Regions from separate parts of the Homo sapiens genome. Here region 1 is linked to region 2. Evidence: fine-mapped expression QTL. Tissue or cell type: whole blood. Region 2 holds a variant in brackets; the other region holds the start of a gene. All regions are shown on one strand. Distances are from middle to middle.

Evidence for each region. PIP is the estimated chance that this variant, and not a neighbour inherited with it, causes the effect.
Region 1: GPRIN1 starts here. The variant in region 2 is fine-mapped to the expression of GPRIN1 in whole blood (INTERVAL, PIP 0.93).

Annotation. Positions count from the first base shown.
Region 1 is chr5:176,608,729-176,611,228 of GRCh38, reverse strand. GPRIN1 (G protein regulated inducer of neurite outgrowth 1) reads left to right here and starts at 1,073. Exons shown (of 2, transcript NM_052899.3): 1 at 1,073-1,230. RefSeq lists silencers at 743-1,372, 1,433-1,492.
Region 2 is chr5:176,587,079-176,589,832 of GRCh38, reverse strand. It overlaps CDHR2 (cadherin related family member 2), which reads right to left. Exons shown (of 32, transcript NM_017675.6): 22 at 651-802; 23 at 395-503; 24 at 217-305. Among named protein-coding and RNA genes, the nearest start is that of GPRIN1, 22 kb to the left of the region's middle. The variant ACT/T (reference allele first, on the strand shown) is at 1,411.

The DNA.
Region 1 (2,500 bases), 22 kb before region 2:
CAAACAAGTTACTTATCTGCTTCTCTTTTCTTATCTGAAAAATGGAGATATAATACATTAATATTAACTTGCTCCTAAGCGATTGGAAATTGAAATTAGATAAAACCTGTAAACAGAATCTTAGCGCCGTGTCTGGCCCTACATAAGCATCATTGCCAATGGTTGTTACCATTGATTAATAGATGGTGGTGGCTTCATAGTACCGGTGCGAGAGGGTTTTGTCACATCTAGAGCAATTACGGAATTATTTTTTCTCCTCTGGGAAGTCAAGGGGAAGGGAACTCCTTCTCTGCAGGGAAATGTGGAGGGGGTGGGCAGCGAGTCTCTGTGTCCTTGGTGATTCAGATACCACTGGAAACCCCTGAACACCTACTTTGCCCTTCCAAGACCACCGTGAGGTGCATAATGTTAGTCCCGTTTTACAGATCGAGAAACTGAAGTGCAGAGAGGTGAAATGATTTGCTCGAGGGTATCCAGGGGGAGGGGGGAGGGCGGGCGGGCCCCCGGGGAGGCCGCAGCCAGGGACTGGAAGGCATCTCTCCCGCACCACTACCTCCGGCGTCCCCGCCACTCGCTGGAGCGTGGGCAGCGGCGAGACAAAGGGCCGGGGGCGGGGAAGAGGAGGCCGGAAGTGCGGCCGGGGGTGGGGGGGGCGGAGGCGGGAAATTTCCTCGCTGGCGGAGCCGGGAGATCGCGCCGACCTGGGTCCCCATCCAGGCGCCTCGAGTCCTCAGGCCGGCGACTGCCCCCTCTGAGCCCCAGTTCCCTCCTTGGTCAAGCCAGGCGAGGGCTTTCGAGGGGCTGGTCTAAGATCTGCTAGACGGCGCGCCCCGCCCTCAGCAAGCTCGCAGCAAAGGGGCAGCCTCTCCGGCCCTCAGTCTCCCTGTCTGTGAAGTGGGAACCCGCTCGAGGACGGCGCGGAACCCGGGAGCCCAGCGGCCGCAGTTAGGGTTGGCCAGCGAGGGGCGCCCCTCCCTCGCTCCCTCCGGCCGCGGTTTCCCCGCGGTCACCGCCCCCTCGCGGTTCCGAGGCGGCCGGGCGGCTACTGCGCATGCCCGGGGCGGGGCGCGGGGCGGGAGCGCGGAGCCGGCGCTGGGGACGGCGGCGCCGAGTCTGCGGGTCCTCCCGCCAGCCCGGCCGGAGGCAGCCGAGGCCGCTCGGGCGGCGGCGGCGGCGGCGGCGGGAGCCGGAGCGCATCTCGCCCAGGAGCCGGAGCAGCGGCACTGCCTGGTAAGCGCCGCGCCCACACCCGCTGTCTTTCCGGGCGGGCGGCGGCAGCCCCTTCATCCGCTCGCTGCCGCCCCGGAGCCGCTGTCCAGGGTCCTCGAAGCCCCCCGGCGGCGGGGCTCGGACACCTCGCGCGGCATGAGCCCGGGTGTGTGCGCGCGGCTGGGGGCGGTGGGTGTCTGTTTCCAGGCTCCTCGCCGGGGCGGGGCGGGGCGGGGCGGGGCGGGGGCGGGTCCCGCAGCCCTGGGCCGAACATCAGAGGGGCCCGGCGGGCCAGGCTGACCTGGCTGTGGGGTCGGCCCCGCGCCCGGCCTTGCCGCCGCCCGCTGGCTTTGTTCGGCATGGCCGCGCGGGAGGGGGTGCTTCCCGCCACTGGGGGGAGGGCGTCCTCCCGCGTTGATTCATCTTCCCCGGAGCGAGCTCAACGCTCCACTGGCTCCACTCGCACTACTGAGCACACTCGCCGTCACACAACCAGTGTGGCACACACTCCGGGGCGCGATCACACAACACCGCGTTCACGCACGGGCGCCTCATTTCCTCGAGTGAGGCCACAGGTCTACCGCACACACACAATGGCTGTTGGTCATTCCATTAGACTCATACACACGGCCACCTGTCACCCAGGGTACTGGGTGGGAGCCTTGCGTACACACCCAGGCACAGCTACGCACTCAAACCAGCCATCGCGGATCACAGCATGGACATCAACTCAACAATACTCCCTGATCACAACACACTCGGGGCCACCCTGCCCTGGCCTGCTCACCCCTGCTCATGGGGTCCCTTGCGTACCCAGATACCCTGGAGTAGACTGCCACCCTTGTGCACACACTCCCTCTTACACACACACTCTGTCTCTTAGCGTGCTGCCCACTCCCACCCACACTGGCCCACGTTTGCACGTCCATGAACGTCCATTCTTGCCCTCCTATGTATGTATGTATGCATGGTCTGAGGGCCGTTTCTGGAAGCAGGTCTGGCTAACACCTTTAGATTCCTTCTCCCCCCACACCCCCGAGCAGGAGACTTCGCTGCTCTGAGGGCACTACGAGAGAAGGGGACGAGGGGCAGCAGACTGAGATTCTCAGACACACTCAGATGCCTGACGAAGTCCCTCAAGCCTTTGTTGGTCTTGTCAGCACAGAAGAGGTATTTGCAGGTGCTTGGCAGTTCTGGCCCTGTTTATGGGTGTAAGGATAGCTCCATGCTGGAAAGAAATCCTAGAGGGAAAGGAATGGCTGGCCAGGTCTCTGTGGCCTGAATGGGCAGC
Region 2 (2,754 bases):
GCCTTGTTCCAAGGCTTCCCTCTGCCCTTGGCTGGGTATGGGCTTCTGGGGACATGCAAGAACGTCGTGCAGGTGAAAGTACAGGGTTGAAGACAGGGACAAGGTCAAATGTGGGTCAGGAACAGGATTGAGAGACATCCCATCCAGGTTTTGTCGGGGACCAGGCTCCTACACCCTGTTCTTCCTACCCCTCCCTCCGGGGCTCCCCAGACCTACGCATTAATCGCCTGTCTGTTGGCGCCCACCTCCTCCTTCGGTGTGGAGAACTGCAGCCGCGAGCGGTAACTCTGGTCCACGGTGAAGAGCTGGGAAGGGGGTGTGCAGGAGATGAGGCACCAGGGACCCTGGGGGCTGGCAGAGGGCGTTGGGGGCTGGAGGTGGGACCAGCACTCACATTCAGGGTGGTGGTGGCTTCCAGGAAAGGACCCAAGGAAGGTCTGTCCCTGGCCTGGACTGTCACTTGGTAGGTGCCTTGGAGAGTGGAGTCGAGGCTGGTCACCGGCCTGCGGAAGGCGGGAGGCGCAGGTCAGTCTTGGAACCCAAGCTGAATCCTCAGGACCCTTGTAACCTCCAGGATGGGGGACTTGCTGCCTGAAAGCTCCTATCGGGCCCCTCCCCGCAACCTCCCTCCCGGGGCCGCCCGCAGTTACTGAATGCTCCCAGCGAACACGTCGGCCTCGGAGGAGGTGAAGATCGAGAAGACACCCTGGAAAGGGATGGTGGCCCCGTCCTTAGAGATGAAGTCTACTCGGAGGATGGAGAACAGGATGACGCCATTGTTCCCTGAATCATCGTCTCTGGCCTGGGAGCAAGAGTGGACAATATCTGGGGGCCCAGCCAGGCCAGGCATCCCTCCACCCCAGCAGGGATCAGAGGCAAGGGTGGCCTGGGAGGCTGGCCCTCACCGTCTCTATCCGCCATCCCCACGCTGCCCCGAATAAGCAAATGGTTTCAAAAAACAGTGTGTCTGCTCTGCAAATCCAGATTTGGACAAGAACCTGCCCCTGTTCCCCAACTCCAAACAGATCACTGCCCTAAGTCCCTCACATGTGGAAATCCTGCCCTGCTCCCCCTACACCCCTCCACTGCCATACTCTCTCTCTCTCTCACACACACACACTCACACACACAGTCTCTCTCACATACACACCCTCTCACACACACACACTCTCACACACTGTCCCACTCACACTCAGTCTCACCCTAACACACACTTACACACATATGCACACACACTCATACACACCCTCACACACACTCTCACACACTGTCCCACTCACACATACACTCACTCACCCTAACACACTCACACACATGCACACACTCATACACACCCTCACACACTTATCCTCTCACACTCACATACACTCACACACCCTCTCACACTCACACACTTATCCTGACACACAC[ACT/T]CACACCCTCACTCTCTCATGCACTCACCACACACTCAATTCACACACACTCACACAAATACACTCAATTCACACACATTCACACACTTGCACAGTCACACACATACACACCCACAATCACCTACATACCCACACACTGTCACACACATTCACATACACTCACTCACCCTTATACACACCCTCAGGCACACACATTCACACTTAGACACACACACACTGGCGTGCACACACACAGCGATGCTCAGATTTCCTAAGCACCTCCCCTGGGATCCCTCATTTCCGTGCGGGGAGTACCAATTCCCCTAGTAGACCATGAAGCTGGTTGGGGAGGGGACACAAGCATTTTTATTCATTCTAGTGCCTTTTAGAGAAAAATTTAACCAGCACACAGAGCTTCGAGTTCACCAACGTTACTGTTAAGGATAGGCCAACACCAGTGCTTAGGTCTTAAAAAGGAATCTATTTAAAGAAAATTGCCGTGGCTAAACTCTTGACATTAGAACCAAATTGGCAGAAGATTGGGAAGCTGTCTTAAGACTTGAAAGTCACACAGTCACTGTCTCTAGCATGAACGTCAACCTAGAGAGGGAGAATTACTATCCCCATTTTACAAGAGGAAGCTGAGGCTCCGAGAGACCCTGTCCTTACACTCGGCTCTAAGTGGGGAAGGCCAGCCCTGTCCATCTCTTGTACCCATGTCCTTTCCAAAGCATAGGGAATGGCACCCACATGCCACCTTCTGGGAACTGCTAGCTTCTTGTTGAACAGGGAAACGGAGTCCCAGAGAGGGTAGGCAGCTCTCCAGGTCAGTAAGAAGCCCAGCCAGGCCCAGCCCTCGGTGGTGTGGGAAGCCTCATCCCCACACGGCATGGCCACCACCCCTAATAAACTTGCCACATCCAACACCATAAACAGCTGAAAGCCTTTTTATGACTTGGCTCCAATAATTTATTTATTTATTTATTTTTTTTTGAGGCAGAGTTTCACTCTTGTCGCCCAGGCTGGAGTGCAATGGCGTGATCTCGACTCACCGCAACCTCCGCCTCTCGAGTTCAAGTGACTCTCCTGCCTCAGCCTCCCAAGTAGCTGGGATTACAGGCATGCACCACCACACCCAGCTAATTTTGTATTTTTTAGTAGAGATGGGGTTTCTGCATGTTGGTCAGGCTGGTCGCAGACTCCCGACCTCAGGTGATCCACCTGCCTTGGCCTCCCAAAGTGCTGGGATTACAGGCTTGAGCCACCGTGCCCAGCTGGCTCTGAGAATTATTTAATGACAAGGCACTGGCTTAATTTACAATTAGCTATGAGTTCTCTGTATTACTCAAGAATTCTGGTATAG